Regions from separate parts of the Homo sapiens genome. Here region 1 is linked to region 2. Evidence: fine-mapped expression QTL. A gene starts in region 2. The other region holds a variant in brackets. All regions are shown on one strand. Distances are between the middles of the regions.

What was found. PIP is the estimated chance that this variant, and not a neighbour inherited with it, causes the effect. A credible set is the group of variants that fine-mapping cannot tell apart.
Region 1: its variant is the best candidate, but not a certain one, in a credible set for the expression of IL1RN in sun-exposed skin (GTEx, PIP 0.71).

The regions. Positions count from the first base shown.
Region 1 is chr2:113,439,986-113,445,230 of GRCh38, reverse strand. ZNG1B (Zn regulated GTPase metalloprotein activator 1B) reads right to left here. Exons shown (of 15, transcript NM_172003.3): 2 at 3,794-3,880; 3 at 1,368-1,464; 4 at 176-267. Among named protein-coding and RNA genes, the nearest start is that of ZNG1B, 4.9 kb to the right of the region's middle. The variant A/G (reference allele first, on the strand shown) is at 2,839.
Region 2 is chr2:113,124,942-113,130,186 of GRCh38, reverse strand. IL1RN (interleukin 1 receptor antagonist) reads right to left here and starts at 2,589. Exons shown (of 4, transcript NM_173842.3): 1 at 2,447-2,589; 2 at 523-611. The coding sequence starts at 2,562.

The DNA.
Region 1 (5,245 bases), 320 kb before region 2:
TCATTCAACTGCCAAAGAAAATGACAACCGAGTACTTTTCCTCTTTTAAACCAAAAAAAGTTTTTGGTTTAATACTAACAAAAGCTTTAATCCTCATGTTAGATATTCCTCTAATACATCTATTTACAGTATATCACAGAACTATATTCTGGTTATTAACAACCTCACTTCTTACCTGGGTCTGCCAATCCAGTGGTCTCTAACAGTATGTAATCAAATTTCCCCTTCTTTTGCATCAAATTCTCAATAGCTCTAAGGCCATTGTCCCTGGAGAATACCAAAACATCATTTACAGTTAATTACCTAAATATTTTGAAGTGATTATTATAAACACTTTAAAATATATTCAACAACCCAAGACAAAAGTACCCTTAGGAATGTGAAAATTTAACTCACTTCTAACCTTCTAACAAAATGTCCGTCCCATATTTACCAGTGAGAAAACAATAGATGCATATATATAATAGGTAAAAAGAAATCATATACATAATAATACTTTATTAAAATTAAAAGCAGAGGAAACTTTATCTGACCAAGTATCTTTTTATAGCTTTATGAAATTTTTAAAAACCAACATACAAAATAATGATAAAATTTATTAACTATAGTAGTTTAATATAATAGCTAAAGGGACACTGATATTAAACACCATATAATTCTATTTTACATTAGGATGCAAGGTTTTAATTTCCTTTTTTCTTATTTTATCAAAAGTGAAGGAAAATCCTTAATAGATTATATTTTGGTTGTTCAAGAAAGTCTGTTATAATTTTATCCTTGCCAAAACATTTGACACAAAGTCAAATACCTAAGGGAGTAAATGATGCCGAAGAGATTTAATTCACTAGAATACACAAAATTAACAGTACAAGTAGTCATTTTTATAATTCATTCAACAAATATTTGAGTGCTACTATGTGTTGGGTAACTCTTCTAGGGTCTATGGTAGACTAGTGAACACTGTCCTTGAAAACTTAACTAGTAGAACATAATGTAAGGTTTTTCTCTTTTTTGATAGTCATTTATTTTTTTTATAAGGTTGAACACTTAGAAATATGACCAATGACAGATTAAATTCAGAATAATCATTTTTTACATATGAGACTTTCATGCACTAGAGATTAAATAAGCCCTGACATCAAAAGCAATAAAAACTCAATAAAAGGACCAAAACATTAGAGCAGATAGAAAAGACAGCAAGAAACACTTTAAGAAAATGCTTCCTAATAAGTTTATTTTCTATTTGTTTGAAAATACAATGAAGCAAACTGTGTAAATTCAGTTAAATTACTCAAGAAAATTAAAGCTGGAAATATAATCAATAAACATTTCTAGTAAACCATGTACACAGTAAACACATTCCTCACTTCACTGAACAGCAGAGGCAACCGTTTCTAAGTTCCAGCCACTCTTCATAGAGCTCTCCACCTTGGCTGACAGCTAAGGATTTCTCCAGCGCACTTCCTAGAATAATTAACAAACAGCACTCTTTAGCTTATGTCCATTAGCCAACAAAAAACAAAGATGAGGATAACTCAATAATGGAGATCTTAAAGCAGAAACTGCATTTTATAACTTATATTCTTTCATTTTATTCATGCAGCCTCGATATCTAAATTACAGTACACTACATTATGTTAGCTTTTATTTAAGATGACTTAAGCCCTGAAAAAGACACATCCTAAACTGATAAACATACCTACTTCCTCCTTAGGCCTCTTACTTGGCCACCCCCATTTCTTAATAAAGTAGCTATCTTGAAGGCATTTTTTTCTTGTCCAGGGTAAACTTTCTAAATAGACTAGTATGTTTTATATACTGGATTTTGTATGCCCTTCAACCTCTTAAGAGACTGCCTTATCTATCTTTTTCTTTTCATTCTTCTTCTAAATTGTTTCTGTTAGACAAACTGCTGAATATTCCCAATGAGTAAAAACCCTAGTTCATCTTGAGGAAGGTTTTTGGCCAGTGTACCATGTGCTCATTTAAAAATTAAACTTACAGGGAGGCCAAGGCGGGCGGATCACGAGGTCAGGAGATCGAGACCATCCTCGCTAACACAATGAAACCTCATCTCTACTAAAATTACAAAAAATTAGCCAGGTGTGGTAGCGGGCGCCTGTAGTCCCAGCTACTCAGGCGGCTGAGGCAGGAGAATGGCGTGAACCCGGGAGGCGGAGGTTGCAGTGACCCGAGACTGTGCCACTGCACTCCAGCCTGGGCAACACAGCGAGACTCCATCTCAAAAAAAAAAAAAACCTAAACTTTTAGTCAAATTCACATATTTTCCTAGCAATACTTACTTAAGAAAGAATAAACTATATTTGAAATGCTTGTTATCTATAAGAATTATTTTAAATGTTTTACTTTTCCTCTAATAAAGAAATATACCAAACGGTGAAGTTCTAAAAGCCCACTAAGCAAATGAGCTCCCATAAAATCGAGTAGTTTTACACTTACGTATTTTTTATATTTCAGCTAGGTATTAATAAAGAGCTTCTAAAGAGGTTGCTACAGAATTCGGACTATATACAGAACATTAAGGAAACATGAAGAAAAGTATTGAGAATGCTGTGAAAAATAAAATTGCGAAAATGATCCAGGAAAAAATAAAGAAAATAGTAAGAATAAATGTAATCAGTGTGCAATAGGTTATTTAATAAGATGATAAAAAAACAGTCTGTTATTAGAAATCTCAGGATTTTTGCCTAAAAAGCACTTTTCTCTTTAGTTTATTAAAACCAGAAATCGAATATAACTGGCTTCCCATCCTGTTCATAAAACCTAGCTCTTTTACTTTTTACAACTGAAAAAAAATAGTACATTTTAAAAGAAATC[A/G]TTTAATAGATATTGTTTTTTGGCTAGAAGTGAGCTTTGATTACAATTCATACTTATGAAGAAAAACTTCTATAAAGATAACAGAAGTATTGTGTCTAGAGCTATTTTTTTGACTACAGTTTAATATTTCAGTTGAGAAGTTAAGCACACTTATTTTCACAGATAACTTAAAATACATGAGGATAAAGACCATATGTTTACCTTTATTTTTAAAATATTGAGTTTTAACTGCATTGCAGATAATAAACATTAAACAAAGTTAACTAATAACAGAAGCATTTTCAAGTATTTTTCATGAGTTGCAATAGAGTCCATACAAAAGTGCCTTCCTAATTCCTAAAAAAAACATTTTTTGGCCAGGCATGGTGCCTCATGCCTGTAATCCCAGCAACTTTGGGAGGCCGAGGCAGGTGGATCACAAGGCCAGGAGCTCAAGACCATCCTGGCCAACATGGTGAAACCCTGTCTCTACTAAAAATACAAAAATTATCTGGGCATGGTGGCGCACGCCTGTAGTCCCAGCTACTCGGGAGGCTGAGGCAGGAGAATCACTTTAACCCAGGAGACAGAGGTGGCAGTGAGCTGAGATTGCACCACTGCACTCCAGCCTGGCGACAGAGAGAGACTCCATCTCAAAAAAAATAAAATAAAATAAAAAATAAACGTTTTTTCATATGTCTAGATTTTTACTTCTGGAGTCATTTATTTCATGTAAAAATGTAGTTTAATTCTGTTAATAAGAATTCCAAAGTTATACAAAATAAAATTTTATTAAAACTAATTTCAGTATCTCAACCCATATAAATCTTAACAGAAATTAATCCAACTTTTCTAAAGCTATCCACATCAATACAATACCTTGCATTTTCATTTTTAAATATGGAATAGCAATTCACCAGAGGAATAAACAGTCACACAAAATCTTGCAACATGACATTTATTGAACTTTACTTACCTTCCCCAAATTCATTTAAAATGACCGCTACTCTTTTACTATGTTGCTCTGTCAAAATATAGTTCAGAAGTGTTGTCTTCCCAGCACCTATAAAACATATTTTTTGTAAATAAAAAAATTCAAAATAATTTTAAAGATACAAAAAACATATAAAGAATCCTAACGTTTTTGAGAATTTGCGTGCTATTTTTCATATATTATTTTAGTATAGAATATCCTAGAGGATAAGATTAAAGCATCCTTTGAAACCTGTTGCAAAATACTTTATGTAGACATAAAATTTTATAAATATTTACAAACACTCCTACAAGTTGAAACAGTTTCTTCAACCTAGCCTAACCTTCCCTAAAATTTACACACAATCTTTTATTTATAATGACCTTTTATTTCAACATTAACAAGACGCAACTTCAGGCTGACTATATGGCTACTTATAGTATGCTTTAAACAATCTATAAAAGTTTTTATGAAATGGGGAATAGAGCCAGGTAGTGTCAACAATGGACAGAATGTTCAGTAAGATAAATTCATAAAGCTATACCAACTTTATCCAGCAGGTGGCATATAAAACCCAATATGTCAATCTCCAGTAGAAAAAAAATAGTCTTGTGAACCGTACACACTAAAATTCATAGAGGAAAAAAAGAAAATCCTAACTGCATAGTATTGTAGTTCAATTGTATGACTATATCATTTCTTTATCTTTTTTTTTTGTTGGACATTTGGTTTGTTTCCAGTGTTTTACTATTACAGTGCTGCTAAAAACTTTTACATGTAGGCTATACATGTCTTCTGAAATACATTAAGTTTTCTAGTATATAACTAGGAAGATTTTACAGAGTATTAGGGTATTAATATCTTTTAGGTCATATTCCTTTCAAAGCTTTTTAAGAGATGAAGGCTTATATTTAGAGTACTTTAGGAAGCTCAACATCACAAAAATATGAAGTATAGAATGGGAGAGACTTAGGGCAATGAGGAAAATCTTAAAACCAGTCCAAGCCTGAGACAGAGGCCCTGAACATGAGTGTTTCACAGGGCAGTGATGTGAAAACTGAAAGGAAAGGGTGAATGTAAGAAATCTTCTAAGAGAAGATTTACTAGGGCTTTTTAACCATATTATGAAAAAAAAAACACTTTAAGACATAGCTCATTCATTCGAAGGTTTCTAATACGTTACAGATTTATGCTGAGCCTTGGTGAAAAAGTGAACAAGATAGTCTCTGCCTTCATAGAGCTTAGAAATATTAAGGGGGCCGGGCGCGGTGGCTCACGCCTGTAATCCCAGCACTTTGGGAGGCCGAGGCGGGCGGATCACGAGGTCAGGAGATCGAGACCATCCCGGCTAAAACGGTGAAACCCCGTCTCTACTAAAAATACAAAAAATTAGCCGGGCGTAGTGGCGGGCGCCTGTAGTCCCAGCTACTTGGGAGGCTGAGGCAGGAGAATGGC
Region 2 (5,245 bases):
TCCTGTTGTCCAGTTGATATCATCCCACTGAAGGGAAAGCTGAGGAACAGAGTGGGTGAAGCTTCTTCAAGGTCATCCAGCTTGTTTAATGTGTGGACCAGAATATGGCTGAGTATGGTGTCCAGGAATAAGAGACATAGCTCAACCTTATACATGGTGGATTAATTTGGGATTGAGTTAGGGTTTGAACAACATAGGAACATGGAGCCTTAATAGGCACTTGAGGAAGGGAATGGTCAACCTTGCCTTCTGGTATTTGCCCTTCCCAGCTGTGGCCCTGGGACCACTGTGCCTATAGGCACTGACCTCTGACCTAGACTCTACCTCTCCACACCCTCTTCAGGCTGCCCTCATATGTGCCCTTCAGTAGCCAGGCCCTCCCAGCTTCAAACTTGAATACAAAGACCCAACAAGGATTAGGACATTGCACCTAGGGTTTGTGCAGGCAGGCCATGCTGCTGCAGACAGACGGGCAAAGTGACGTGATGCCCACATACATTGGCTTTCCTGGCAACCACTCACCTTCTAAATTGACATTTGGTCCTTGCAAGTATCCAGCAACTAGTTGGTTGTTCCTCAGATAGAAGGTCTTCTGGTTAACATCCCAGATTCTGAAAAGGAAAAGGACTCAGCTGTAGTGCACAGCCACCATGTGCCCAGCCTTGTGCTTGGCACCTTCCTGTGTCCCCCAGAACTTGTCAAATTTGCATCCAGCTCTTCCAGGGGTATAGTATTTTAGTATACCCACGGCATGCATGGATGAGAAGACTGAGGCTGACAATGGTTAAGAGGCAGGCCCAACCCTCACAGCTGGTGAGCAGTGAGCCCACATTTGACTCCCCTCCTTACTTGCTTCCCATCTGAGATTCCCAGGGAAGGCACTTCTGTTTCAGCAAAGCATGCTGTAGAGCAGCAACATCCAAAAGAACTTTCTGGGATGCAAAAATGTTCTGTAGCTGCACTGCCCAATAGGGTGGCCACTAACCACATGTGGCTATTGACCTCTTTAAATGTGGATAGTGTGACCAAGGGTCTGGATTTTAAATTTTCTTCTATTTTCATTCATTTAAGTATAAATTTAAATAGCCACCTGAGACTAGTGGCTACCATAGCACCTAGGTAGAAGTTTCAAGAGACGGAACACCTTGCAGCTAACTCGCTCTGAGTCTGAGACCAGAAGGGTCTTTCCCTAGAGCCTTTCCTCCATTAGCTGGTGACCTGCTCAGAGTCCTGCAGGAGCAGCTACCCTTGGGAACAACCCGGCTTCCTCTCTACCTCAGCCAGTGACCTGATTCTGGGTCCCAATCCTTTCTTCTTGGTAAAGGGCCTCTCTGGTTGAGAGCAGGACTCAAAGCTGTGAGACGTAATAAACAGAGCTCTGGCCAGCCTGACCTGGGACCTGTGCCTCACCTCTTCACCTGTGAAGTGTGGCTAACTGTACCCACCTCATCAGGTGGCTCTGAAGAGCCCACATGCTCGACGAGGGGTGGCCAGGCAAACCAAAGTGCTTTGCATATGGCAGCATTGGCCTGTTTGTGATTATCCTAGTTTCTAGATTTAGCCTCAGTCTGGAGGGATAAACATCACCTGCTGGGGCCTCCAGGAGGATCTCCTGGAGCTTCTAGCTGATCAGAGCAGGGAGAGGCAACCTAGGGAAGCAGACAGTCCCCATATCTGGAAGGGAGAGACTTGTCACTCATACACCCACAGAGCCCGACTTGCAGCCTCGGCCCAGACAAACATAAAGGTCAGAGTGGGGGAGAAGTCACCCCAACATGATTTCACTGCTGGAATGTCACACTGCAGAGGGCATGCACAAGCAGTCCTGTCATTTCTATCAGCATCACATCTTTACAATAGTGATGGTCTCACAAAGCCGATTCCATTTTCAAATCATAATGGTTTTCAGGCTCTTTACAATGCACGGAATACTGTTACGCTATTATCTGTGCATTTAATTTTCACAACAACCCTGTAAGGCACACAAGGAGTTATCGTGACTCTCATGTCACAGATGTCACAGACGGGGAAACCAAGGTCCCTGGAGAGTGGGACCCTCCGACATGTCAGCACAGACAGGCCTTGCCCATATCAGTCTGGGCCTTCGGGCTGTGCCCCTGGTGCCCCTCTCTGCTTCTCTGTCAGCACATTCAACTAGGCCTGAATCGCAGTCCCACTCCTTGGCATGCATCTATTACTCACTGGGTTCCTGAGTCTCTGGGAAAGTAAGACAGCCCTCCGGTCGCACTATCCACATCTGGGATATTTTGAAACACAAGTCCTGAAGCCCATGCATGTAACAGCCTCTTTCTTGAATAATGGACATCCTCTCCAGCCCAAACCCAGTTCTCAGGCCCTCTGGGGCCTGGCAGCCCCTGGCAGCTGTGATATGTTTCCAGTCTCCAGCTGATCCACCCTCACCTTCTCCTCCTTGGGGTAGCCTTACCTGAAGGCTTGCATCTTGCTGGATTTTCTCCCAGAGGGTCGGCAGATCGTCTCTGAATGGAACAGGAAGAGGAGGAGAGTGATTAGGTGACTGCGGAGGCCTCTGCAGATTTCCATTCTGTGACTGCAGCAAGGCAGTGGACTGCCATTGCGGGCCCAGAGTTGTGGTTTATAAAGAAATAGTCACTCACCCAAGCTAGGCGTCTGCCACCCTGCCCCACTGCGAGAAGCGGAAATACCCTCCTCGCATTTCCAAAAAGAGAAACCCTTGCTGTTGTCACTTTCAACCCCACTAAGTGTCGCAATGGAGTGTTGTAACTGATTCCCTCCCCTTTTTCCCCTGTGCAATTTCCCCAAAATTAAGATTTCTATTTCCCCTTCATTGAGTTCCTGGGAAGAAGAGCACAATGGAAACCAAACTCCCTACTGTTCCTGACAGGTACCCAGAGTCTGTTTGTTGACTTTTTAAAAAACAGATTTGAGCAGAAAGGCCGTTTTTTCATAATAAAATGATAGGGCTCCCTGCACATGGGACAGTCTCATGTCACTTTGTGTTCTTTGAAAAATGGACAGCCTTGGACTCCGGACCATAGATTGGCAAACATTCTGTAAAGGACGAGATAGTAAATATTTTAGGTTTTGTGCGCCACGATTACTCAGCTCAGCTGTCTGTTTCACAAAAGGACGTTGGCAATCCATAAATCAATAAGCCTAGCTGTGTTCCACTACAACTTTCTTTGCAAAAGCGGGGAATGGACCGGATTTGGCCTGAGTCTGCTGACCCCTGATGTAAAGTGAGTCCTTCTGAGAGGTGCTTTGAAATCAACTCTTTTCCCACTATCTTACATCTTTAAAGTTATGGTCTCGGGACGATGACATAAACTCAGCATTTGGACAGGAATGGGTCTAAATTCAACCTCTGCCACTTGCCTTGTGCCACCCGTGTGACCTTGAACAAATCATTTCATTAGTTGAGCCTCTGTCTCTTCACTCTCAGAATGAGGGTGATCATGTCTTCTTCACAAATGGATGGAAGGAAGGAAGGGAAAGAGGGAGGGAGGGAGGGAGGAAGCAGGTGTAGGAAGGAAGAGGAGAACTTCTGGCCCATAATGGGCTCTGATACACATTAACTTCCTTACTTACAATATTCTAGACCCGGGGCCTGGAACATTAGGAAAAAGGTAAGCATGCTCCTATTTTATGGGTAGGAAAAAGTTGAAGAGAATTTCTGCATGATCTACAGGATGGACAGTGCTGGTGCAGAAGCATACGTTGCAGTGTTTTAGAGCTGGACGGGAGCTTGGCAATCATCCTGTCCCAACCTGGCATTGTTTTCAAGAAGACTCAGAAAGATTTAGACAAAAAAGGGATCTGTCCAAGGTCACACAGCTTGCTGATGGCAAAAGTATGCAGAGAAATCCAGGTCTTCTGACCTCCAGCCCCGGGCTTTATTAACAAATGCTTCAGAAACTTTAAACCCTAATATTCATCACACTCTGGGAAGAGGCAAATAAGTAGGCAGGTTAATATACATCACCCCCTTCAGCTAGTCCTCACAAAAACAAACAAATAAACAAAAAAAATGTCTCCTTGGCCCTCAAAGGAAGACACTATTTCTCAAACGTGTTTCAAAAATGATGGCTGGGCTGGGCACGGTGGCTCACACCTGTAATCCCAGCACTTGGGGAGGCTGAGGTGGGCGGATCACCTGAGGTCAGGAGTTCAAGACCAACCTGACCAACATGGTGAAACTCCGTCTCTACTGAAAATGCAAAAATTAGCAGGGATGGTGGCATGTGCCTGTAATCCCAGCTACTCGGGAGGCTGAGGCAGGAGGATCACTTGAACCCAGGAGATGGAGGTCGCAGTGAGCCAAGATCACGCCACCGCACTCCAGCCTAGGCAACAGAGTAAGACTCCATCTCCAAAACAAAAACAAACAAAAAAGTATGAATGACTCACTCAAGGTGATGCAGCTTGTGAGGGCAGCACAGGAATACAGACAAAATGTCAAAATATTTACTACTACAGCAGTTGATCTTGATGAGTCTATTTTCAACCAACAAATCAGAATCTTTCTCTCAACCAACACATCTTCCAACCAACAAATCAGAATCAAACACTTTGTGTCCAGAGAGTTAATCCTTCAAAGGAGGAAGACTATGAATGAATTTCCCAAAGGTTTAAAGAATGTATCCTTCAGAGGAAATAGAACATTTCTGCAAAATTGTGTCACCTCCCTGGGTGATGGATTTTTTCAGGCAAAATGGCATGTCTGTATTCCTGTACTGTCCTCATAAACAGTGTGACCTTGAGTGAGTCACCCATCCTTTTTGAAACACGTTCAAGAAACAGTGTCTTCCTATGAGGGCCAAAGAAGAATTTTGTTTATTCATTTGTTTGTTTTTGTGAGGACTAGCTGAAGGAGATGATGTATATGAACCTGTCTACTTATTTGCCTCTTCCAGAGTGTGTTGAATATTAGCGTTTAAAATTTCCAAAGTATTTGCTAATAATCAAGTGTATCACTTTATTCTCACACTCTCTGAAAGAGAAGGCAGCTAGCACCTGACTATGATAGGTTCTCTCCTATTTGTCTTTCTTCAACCCTCCGGAATTGGAAGACCATAATTCTCTCAACAATGTCCTTACAGATTGCAGAAGAGAAGTGGCTTGCCAAGGTAGGGTGGAGAGTTCCATCCTGGCCACTGCCTTCAGACAGCGTTTCAAGTAAAAAGCCCCACCCACACTGCGGCTCCTGGGTAAATGTTTCTCTGACCCCAGTCTGAATTCAGAGAGT